Linked DNA regions of Homo sapiens: region 2 is linked to region 1. The links come from fine-mapping of genetic effects on gene expression. Tissue or cell type: thyroid. Region 1 holds a variant in brackets; the other region holds the start of a gene. All regions are shown on one strand. Distances are between the middles of the regions.

Region 1 (5,128 bases):
GTCACCCAGTCCAGAGGGAGCCGGTCAGCTGCGTTCCGCGAACTTGGGAGGCGACTGCTGGGGTAGCGGCGGGGCCCTCACTGCGCGTCGTCAGGGACCAGACCCTGGGGTGGCCCCGAAGCGTCGAGACTACAACTCCCGGGATGCCGCGGGCCAGGCTGCATCCCGCCTGCGCAGAAGTGGTGGCAACTCCGCCCCTCGCCAGGCGGCGGCGCTGCGGACTCAGTCCTAAGCGGGCGAAGGCGGCGAGCGCCGTGGGTCTGGGCGGGCCAGGAGAACCGGGTGCTTCGAGGAGATCTGCGGGCTGGGTTGGGGGCGTTTGACCCCTTGGCTTGTCCCAGTGGGTAGGCGGGACTCCAACCCCCGCCTCCTCCAGGGTAAAGCTCTCACGTCCACCTGGCGCGACGCTGAGCCATCTTCAGAAGCACCGCAGCCCTCAGAACCCCACATCCCGCTGCCGGTGGTTCCCCGCATCCGGTGTCCGCCCCCGAAGCCTCCCTCCCTCCCTCCTCCGCATCCCCAGCTACCTGCCCTTAACCGCGACCTGGGCCTCTCCTGGGGAGGCCCAGGGTGGGGTCCTCAGAGGTCCAGGGACCCAGGGGCATTTGTGGGGTCTGTAGGGGGGTGGGCTTAAGGGAAGGGTGGTCCCTTTCAAATTGGGACCACCAGGCAGGAATCAGGCGCACGGGTTCCTCCTCTGTGGCTTCCTGTGGCACTCCAAGTGGGAAGAAGAGAAGCTTGGAAGTGAAAGCCTCAGCTTCTCCTTTCTTCAGCCCCTCAAGCCTCAGAAAGATCTGTCAAGCGCGGCCCGCCTCTACAGAGGCCCTGGGGAGATGGTCTAGACCTTGAAATATCCTAGAAGAGGTTTGACAGGTTGGAGCTTTTGCTAGACAGATGGATCACAGATGGGCTTAAGGGGTGGAGGGTGTGTGTGTGTTTGTGAGAGAGAGAGAGAGAGAGAGAGAGAGAGAGAGAGAGATTGCCAGGTGAGGAAGGTGATGAGCTGAAACCAACTTGGAGCTATGCTGTATTATGATGATGAGGATTTGGGTTGGGGGGTGTTACAGGCTCTAACCAGAAATCTGGAAGATGTGATAGGTGGGGCCTTTAAAAAAAAAAAAAACCCTAAACATCTCTTTGTAATCCATCCCTCCTCTGCATCCCTACCGCTACTGCCGCCATCCCCTCTCACTCAAATCTTGCAATAGCCTTTGAAAGGCGCCGCCTGACTCCAGACTGCTGACCACTAGATCAGCACAGCAGCCAGTGGAGTTAGAGCCTTTAACTCACTGTGTTCATCCCTCGCTTAAAACTTTCAGTGACTCCCTTTCACCTCCCCTGCAGGATAAAGCCCAAGCTCCTTGGCATGACTTATGGGCGCAGTGTGATCTGGCTCTGTCTGCCCCTCCAGCCTCATCTTACCATTGCCCCCATCTCACTCTACCCTCCGCTGTGCCTAATGCACTTCTGCCAGGTCCTCTGAATAAGCCTCTCCTTTGCCTGTGGTTCCCTTTGCCTTGGAGCATTTTCTGTCCTTCGCTTCTCCTGGCAGATTCCTACTATGTGTCATGTCTCTACCTAGAAGTCACTTCACCTATGAGCTCCCATAGAGGATCCTGTATTTCTCTTATTTTAATAATGCCTAGCATTATTGAGCATTTATTGTCTAAGTGCTTTACAAATGGTAACTCATTCAGCCTCACAACCACCTTTTTTTGAAGTAAACACCGTTAATATCCTCTCAATCTTACAGATTCAGAAACCGAGGCACAGTTGCCCAAGAACACACAGCTGGTAAGTGGTAGACATGGAATTTGAATGCAGGCAGTCCGGCTCCTGAGCCCAGAGTCCTAATCTCTGTGCCAACTGGCTGATGTAGCATGCTATATGGGGTAGGAGGCTGGGGTTAAGAATCAGCAGGTGATGGGTGGACAGGCAGGACAAATTAGATGGGGATTAAAATGAAAGTGGTGACAAGCAAAACTGTTGCCAAGACTGCAGGTGACAACTGAGAGAGTGAAGGCCAGGCACGGTGGCTCATGCCTGTAATCCCAGCACTTTGGGAGGCCAGAGTGGGAGAGAGTGAGTGGAGATGGACCGCTGCCATAGTGATGGGGTAAGGAGAAGGCCTCTAGGGGTATACGATGACTAAGTGCAGATAAGGCTACTGATGTCAAAACAGGGGTATAGGTGGGACTCATAGCGGACAGACGGAGGTCAGATTGGAGGACTTGATGAAGGAACCAGGCTGGCAGGTTGTGGAGGTGATGGCAGTTATAGAGGTCAAGGGGAGAGTAGCTCAGGACTGTGAGCTTGCAGCCCCAGGGGGAATGCAGTGGCTCTGAGTGCAGATCCCAGGGGTGTTCTAGCAGCAGCAACA[G/T]CAGCTGAGGAGCTGGGCTCTGGCCCTCCACCCCGGTGCCCACCTCTGCACTGTTGATGCCGCAGCCCCTCTTGGCCCCTCATCCCCAGCTAGGCACCCCCAGAAAGAGCTCCGTGCAGACAGCAAAGCTCACACCCCCATCTGCAGGGCCCTTTGCAAGTCTTCAGCCTTCTAGGTAAAAATCTAAACACTTTTTGGAAAGTTTTATTTGAAAACTTGGGGACAGGACAGAGACAGCAGGATGGAGACTGTATTCTCCTGCTAGGGTTCTTAGGTCAAAAGCCAGGCTCGGGTCCCTCCCGTCTCTAAGTTCCAGGTCCACTCCAGTCTGTGGACTCCTGAGGAATATACCCACCCACCCACTGTCAGGCCCTTACCCCTCCCCCACCGCCCACTTCCTGTGCCTGAGGAGACACTGAGGCGTGGGGGTAGACTATGAGGGAGCGGGGGTGGGGAGGATCTGGTTAAACTCCAGAAGAAGGAAGTGAGAACCTGGGAGTTTGGGGGCTAAGAGGAACAGATAGAAAAAAGAAATAAGGAGGGGGCTACTGTCTTTGCCTCCTCCATCACGAAAGCTTTGCCCTGAGATGTCTCCCTTGAAGCTCAGATAGGAAGTCCGGGGTAGATCACATCCTGTGACTTGGCAATGGCGCCCGTCTTTGGGTGCTGGTTGGGAAACAGTCATGCCCCTGCTACGGGGGGCTGGGGCAGTGCACGCCCCGCTGTGCCAGGCCCTCCATCTCAGCTGGCTGCAGGCTGGCTGTTGGCATAGGCCTGATCCGGGAAGGAGGCCCGGGCCCTGCGGGTCTGGGCACATACTGAGGCATAGAGCTCCGGCTCGGGGCCCGAGGCCTGGGACTTTGGCTCAGAGTCCAGCACCACCTCCGAGTACTTGACGGGGGTTCCAGGACCGGGGATCCGACCCTGAGGAGGCCGCAGCTGCAGGCTGGTATAGCACATCACCTCCTCTGCAGCCTGGAGATGCAAGGCTGTTAGAAGTTCACTGGACCCTCGGAAAAGCCCGAAAAGCCCCCCACTTCCTTCCCTCCCCCTTTTCTCCAGCCACAGTTGACTCACCCTGGCAGGGCCTCCAAGAGTTGGATCCTGCTGGTCTGGCTCTGGGTCTTGAGACAGCCGTCCTGGGACGGGGAACAGGAATCTGGTCAGCAACTTGTCCTTCCTCCTGCACGCCCCCATCCCAGCCACCCAGGACCTGGCCTCTGTGCCCCTCCTCTCTGCCAGCTCCCTACCTGTCTGTAGATAATGCAGGTTCCCATACAGCGGGACCTCTTCCACAGACTCTCCAGAGCTGCAACGCAGAGTTTAGGGGATGAGTGGGGACTTCTCGGTAAGAGAGAACTCTCAGTCAACCCATCCCTGTTGTCCTTCACCCACCGTCCCTGCCCCGGATGGCTCCTGCTCCGGCCCCTGGTCCACTGGGACAAGTGTGCAGCCAGCGAGATGAGAAATAGCAGCGTCACAGCCCCTAAGAGGACCCACAGTCCCCAGGCCTGGGTTATGGAGGGGATTCCTGTGGATGTGAAAGGAAGGGGGGTGTAACAGCCCCGCCCCACCCCCAGGGCCCAGCAGGTGGGACCTGGGGCCACATGACCCCTCCCCCACCAGCCCCTGCCCTGCCCAGCTCACCCAGTGCGAGTAGATCCGTGCAGTTGTCGCCTCTGCTCATGGCTGCAGATGTGAGAGTCCACAAGCACACTGCTCTGAGCCGAGGGTCAGCCTGGTTCATGGCCTGACGGTTTCCACAGCACTTCTTACTCCCATCCCTCCTCAGGCCCGTACCCCGCAGCTCAGCATCCCCAATACTGGTGGTGGCAAAGTCTCTGGTTTCCGGGGAGGAAGGGGGAGGGGAGGGATGAAAAAAAGAACAAAGACCCCGCCCTGTGCCTGCACCTGCGCCACTCCTGCAGCTCCTGAGCTTCCCCCACCCTCGCTGCCCAGGCCCTTTGCCCCCCTTGAGAAGAGAAGCAGGCCTGTGGGTAATGTGCCACGGGCAGTTGAGTCCCTGAGGACTCTGAGGGCGGGGGGTGGGGGCAGAAGTGGTGTGAAGCAGGACTAACAAGGACAGGAACACCCCTTCTGCTCCAGGATGCCCACCTTCCTCCCTGACTCTGGTCCCAGAAGAAAGATGTATTCCTCAATGAGTATGGTATAAAGTGGAAGGGTCGGGGGAGCCTCCTGGTACCTCTGATCCCATCACACCCTAAGGCTGATCTGAGAGGATATGTGTTTAGATGATGCTTGTTATTGTTTCATTGGGGGCATTATAATTTGGGGGACACCCCCAAACCTCCCCTTTCAACCCACTTCATCCAAACTGTCTGTAAGAACTGTCACTCTCAATAATTAATTGCATTTTAAAACTCTTTGCTGTAGGACTGTCCTGGGAAACTGAGCCCTATCTTGCACATGTTCACTTCAGCGGGTGTAGTACCTGCCATACCTAGAGCTAACTCCATCACGTGCAAGGCTATTGATGTAGGAAGAGGGATTTTAAGTTGCAAATATAAACCTGAGACCAGAAGTCAGAGATGTGTTTTGTCTAGCCCATACAACATTTTTTAAAAGTTTAAAATCAGTGCAGTGGCATGCCAACAATAGGGATGGCAGAAGTCCTGCCCCTTGAGTTGCAGGCAATAAGGGGGTGCATTGTCTGTAGAGAATTTAAAAAATAAAAATCAGTCCTCTTATTATCACCATGTTCCAGAAATTCTGAAAAAAAAAATCAGT
Region 2 (5,148 bases), 83 kb after region 1:
GGGGAAGGGGAATGATTACATGGATGGTGGCTAAGTCAGGGAATGATGGGGTGAGGTCAGAGGCCAGGTCAGGCTATAGGAGGTTGAGAAGAGCTGGGCCTGTGGTCAGTCACTAAATCAGACTGGGGTGGGGGTGGGAAAGTGAAGGGACATTGGCAATGTCTAAGTAAAGCTGGAGCTGGGATGGGGGATGGGGTACAGCCAGTGGCTGGGTCAGGCTGAGTAGAGGATAGTGCTGTGGTCAGTGGCAGGGTCAGGCTGGGAGTGAAGTGGGGGTGTGGTCAGTGGCCTGGCTGGGCGTGGGATCAGCAAGACCCAGTTTCCTCTTTGGGTCTCGTTTCCTCTTTTCTGTTGGGGAGTGGGGGAAGGGGATCTACAAATGGTCCAAGAAATTAAAAGAGGCTTAGATCCAGGGGGTGACACACAGCAGGGGATGGGAGTAGGGTATTCAGCAGATGACCAGGTGGAATGTAGGTACATGACTGGGTGAAAATGGTAGGAGAGTAATTTAAAATGATGGGAAAGCTCAGGTTTTGATGAGGGTAAATTCAGGTAGGATGTGCGGATTAAAGGTTGGTGAGGGAGGTAGAACTAAGGATGGGAACGGATGATAAGATGAGCATGGGAGAGTTAAAGGCAAGGGAAGTATTTTGTAAGGGGATAGGCAGGATGGGTGTGAAATGCAGAGTCAGGGATGAGAGTTGGAGAGGAGGGCTTAATACCAAGAGAACAAGTGAAGTGGGAGAAGCAGGGCTAAACTTTCAGGGGATTCAGTTATTCCCTTCTCCCATGGCAACAGTGATTCCTTGGTTAGCTTCCCCCATAGTCATCAGCTCCTTCTTCCCTAGGCAGTCCCCAACTTGTGACTAGGCCTTGTACATCCTGGGTCCCTATTTCCCACCTATGTTGTCTGTAAACAACACAGTCCAGAATCTCTGTCCCCTAACTGTGGTGGCCACAGCAAGGGCCTTGGGCTTAGAGAATGGAATAAAGAAGCTGGAATCCCAGATGCCTGCAATTCTAGCTAAAGCCAGAACGCTAGCCTGAAATTAGTTTATCTCTCTGGGTAAAAAGAAGCCCCTGTAACTACATAGGAATAAAGGATTTCCCTACAAAAGAAGGGCATTTACCTACTGCCAACCTCTTAAATTTTATCTGCTCAAGGTCAACTATGCTAGCCTCAAACCACAACCCCTAAAGCTGCCCCAAATTCCTAACATTAACCCCACCTCTAATTTGTTTCCTGATTCCCAGTACCGGCTTGGACATTCATCCCTTTCCTAGCACAGACTCATATCCAATCCCTGATCCCTGAAACTGATCTAAGTTTTGCCTTTAGCACCAAATCCCCTGATGTTAACCCTAAATGTTGACCCCTAAGCCTAAAGTTCATTTATAATTTGATTCCTAACTCACGCTTTCACTGTTTATCCTTAACACCGACCATGCCAACATTCTTTAATCCCTCAAACAAGCTCTAACCTGATTCCTGTTGTTTGTTGACCCTTAACCTGACCCTGAACTCAAATTATGACGTATGATGGCCATCCCAGCAAACAAGATAATGACCGTAATCTAAACCTTACCTATCTAAAACGGACCTGACTCACACTAACTCTTAAGTTTTAACCCCAGCTTTTAACTCCTATAGCGACCCTTGATTCCTAAACGGACCCCACCTAATCCCCAACTCACCCAAAGCTTTCCTACCCACATGCCCGCTATCAGCTAACACCAAAGCCCGTCCCCGCCCTGCGCCCCGCTGCCACCCGACTCCTCACGCTCCCCAAAGCCTATCCCAGACATAGGACTGCTCCCAGGAAAGGCCTGTCTTCCCCAAGACGGCCTACTTCACGCCGAGCTCAAGCCGAGATGCGCTGGACGCTGACCTCTCCAACTAATAGGACCCGAACCGGACACGCAAGAGAGGCAGGGCCCGCCCGCCCCGGGGCCAGGCCCCGCGGCCCCACCCTAAGGCCCCCGCCCGGCCCGGTCTGGCCTACCTGCGCTGCCTGGCTCTGCGCCCCGCCCGCCGGCCCGCCGCCCCGCCGCTTCTCGGGTCGCCCTCGGGCTCCGGCCTCGCCCTCCCTTCGACACTCTCTCGGCCACTTCCGTCCTGGGAACGTCCCCCACCCGCGGGCGGCGCCCTGGGCCCGCGCTCTATGGTCGCGGGGGGCAGGCAGGAAGCTGCTCTGGCCCCGTTCTCGATGCTCGGGAGCCGCCAAAGCCCGGCAGCCCCTCCCTGGCAGGAAGCGAGGGTGCGGCGCAATCCGGAGAGGACGCCAGGACGACGCCCGAGTTCCCTTTCAGGCTAGAACTCTTCCTTTTTCTAGCTTGGGGTAGAAGGCGGAGCCGGAGCCCCGGAACCCCCGCCCTCGGGGTGCGAGGCGGCAGCAGGGCCGTCCCCTACATTTGCATAGCCCCTGGGACGTGGCGCTGCACCCAAGCCTCTTCTCAGTTGGAGGGAACTCCAAGTCCCACAGTGCCACGGGGTGGGGTGCGTCACTTTCGCTGCGTTGGAGGCTGAGGAGAATTGAGCCTGGGAGGCGGGTCCGGAGAGGGCTATGGAAAGCCGCCGGCGGGGAATCCCGGCCGTAGAGGGACAGTGGATAGGTGCCCGAGGCCTACAGCTGGCCTGGGGCTCGTGTCTGGGCTTCGGACGTTGGGGCCCGGTGGCCCACCCTTTCCGTAGTTGTCCCAAATGGAGCTGGAATTGGATGCTGGTGACCAAGACCTGCTGGCCTTCCTGCTAGAGGAAAGTGGAGATTTGGGGACGGCACCCGATGAGGCCGTGAGGGCCCCACTGGACTGGGCGCTGCCGCTTTCTGAGGTAGGTTGGGGTTCTGACTGGGGAAAGCGTGGGATGTCCATGAAGTCAGGTGATGGTGATAAGGTCAAGGCCTGTTCATTGGAACCCTGCGCAGGTACCGAGCGACTGGGAAGTAGATGATTTGCTGTGCTCCCTGCTGAGTCCCCCAGCGTCGTTGAACATTCTCAGCTCCTCCAACCCCTGCCTTGTCCACCATGACCACACCTACTCCCTCCCACGGGAAACTGTCTCTATGGATCTAGGTGAGTCTGAAATAAGTTTGCGGGGAGGACAGGGTTCATGGGCCTGGCTATTCATACTTTCCCTTTTGCAGAGAGTGAGAGCTGTAGAAAAGAGGGGACCCAGATGACTCCACAGCATATGGAGGAGCTGGCAGAGCAGGTACTTGACTTGATTTTCAGGAGATTACTCTCACATTCCCCAGGTGGGGGCAGGATTCCCCATTCCTCTCTGACATCCCCATGCAACTGCCGTCCACTTTCTTGTTACCCTAGGAGATTGCTAGGCTAGTACTGACAGATGAGGAGAAGAGTCTATTGGAGAAGGAGGGGCTTATTCTGCCTGAGACACTTCCTCTCACTAAGGTAAGACTCTCATTGGTTGAACAAAGGCTGAAAAGGGATTAAAAGTCCCAAGTAGGCAAATTCTGTTAACTTTATATCAATAACTTTAAAAAAGGATTGAGGTGAGAAACTTAGTAGATTTATTGCTAATAGGAAGTTGAGGCAGGTACACAATATGCCAGATGCAAGGGCAGATCCTCGTTTTTGTTGGGCTTATACAAATTTTGGTGTTCTGTTAAAAAAATAACTCAAAATTATCAGTGCAACATTAGTATTGGGCCTTGGAAAGGACTGTGTAAGTGAAGGGCCTTGACACTTCGTTGGCTTCATAGTAATCCACCTCTTGCTGAATGGTAGAACTGTTTAGAGAGTTCAACAGGGTTGGACTAAGCAGTACATGAATAAATGTAAAATCCTTAGTTTTCAGTTTTAAGCAATGAGTGGCAACTTCACAAGCAGAGTACTGGGGTACTATGATGAAATCAGTGCTCATTAATAGAAAGGTTACAGGAATATATATATATTTTTTGACAAGGTCTTGCTCTGTTGCCCAGGCTGGAGTGCACTGATGTGATCATGGCTCACTGCAGCCTTGACTTTCTGGGCTTAGGTGATTCTCCCACCTCAGCCTCCCGAGTAGCTGAGACTACAGGTGCACACTACCCTGCCCGGCAATTTTTTTTTTGGTATTTTTAGTAGAAATGGGGTTTTGCCTTGTTGCCAGGCTGGTCTCGAACTCCTGGGCTCAAGTGATCTACCCACCTTGGCCTCCCAAAGTGAAGAATTTTAATTTCTTCAAAGTACAAGATGAGTCAGCAGTGTGATGTGGCTACTAAGAAAGTTCATGGGATTTGGAAACTGTAGCAATAGAGTTATTGTCTCTACAAGTCACTCTCTTGCTTTCCTTGATACTGGCTAGAGCACATCTTTGACAGATACTAAGAGGATGCAGTCTATCCTGAGAAGATGAGTTAAAAATTTTGTCTTTTTTTTTTTCTTTAAGCTCTGAGGAAATGTTAAGTGCCTTAAAATAGCTAAACAGGGTTTATTCTATTTGGCCCCAGAGATACTAGGTAAGTCCAACGGATAGAAATTATAAGGAGGCAGCTGTTGGTTCAGGATAAGGAAGTTTTTATTTGCTTGTTTGAAGACAGGTTCTTGCTTTATTGCCCAGGTTGGAGAATAGTGGCGAGATCATGGCTCACTACAGCTTCAACCTCTCAGGCTCAAGTGATCCTCCTTCCTCAGTCTCCTGAGTAGCAGGGACCACAGGCATGTGCCACCACACCCGGCTAATTTTTTATTTTTAGTAGAGACAAGGTCTCACTATGTTGCTCAGGCTGGTCTCAAACTCCTGGGCTCAACCGGTCCTCCTGTCTTAGCTCCCCAAAGTGTTGGGATTACAGGCATGAGCCACGTCGCCTGAATACTGCCCGACCAGTTTTTTTTTTAATAGTTTAAAATGGTCTGGCTTGTTAGGGTTAACACCTGGTCCGTGGAGGCATTCAGAAAGAATCTGAATGCCTGTTGGTCAGGGAAGCTGTAGAAGGGATTTCTGTATTGGAAAGAGATTGATCTCAGTTGCGTTTCAACTCCTTTTTCTAGAGTTCCTCTAATGATATCCCTTTCCCTGTTTCCTTTCAGACAGAGGAACAAATTCTGAAACGTGTGCGGAGGAAGATTCGAAATAAAAGATCTGCTCAAGAGAGCCGCAGGAAAAAGAAGGTGTATGTTGGGGGTTTAGAGAGCAGGTAT

Evidence for each region. PIP is the estimated chance that this variant, and not a neighbour inherited with it, causes the effect.
Region 2: it holds the start of TLN1, and the variant in region 1 is fine-mapped to the expression of TLN1 in thyroid (GTEx, PIP 0.97).

Annotation. Positions count from the first base shown.
Region 1 is chr9:35,646,727-35,651,854 of GRCh38, forward strand. SIT1 (signaling threshold regulating transmembrane adaptor 1) reads right to left here and starts at 4,205. Exons shown (of 5, transcript NM_014450.3): 1 at 4,028-4,205; 2 at 3,776-3,911; 3 at 3,631-3,689; 4 at 3,458-3,519; 5 at 2,569-3,355. The coding sequence starts at 4,127. The coding sequence ends at 3,122. LOC101926948 (a long non-coding RNA gene) reads left to right here. Exons shown (of 2, transcript NR_135130.1): 2 at 1-750. It also overlaps a transcript of CD72 not described here. RefSeq lists enhancers at 1-95, 2,956-3,005 and a silencer at 3,916-3,985. The variant G/T (reference allele first, on the strand shown) is at 2,381.
Region 2 is chr9:35,730,072-35,735,219 of GRCh38, forward strand. It overlaps TLN1 (talin 1), which reads right to left and starts at 2,124. Exons shown (of 57, transcript NM_006289.4): 1 at 2,004-2,124. It overlaps CREB3 (cAMP responsive element binding protein 3), which reads left to right and starts at 2,595. Exons shown (of 9, transcript NM_006368.5): 1 at 2,595-2,830; 2 at 2,925-3,072; 3 at 3,144-3,211; 4 at 3,325-3,414; 5 at 5,038-5,144. The coding sequence starts at 2,702. It overlaps MIR6853 (microRNA 6853), which reads left to right and starts at 2,851; the gene lies at 2,851-2,924. RefSeq lists enhancers at 232-291, 1,681-1,730, 2,531-2,580, 2,631-2,720 and silencers at 1,911-2,200, 2,241-2,400.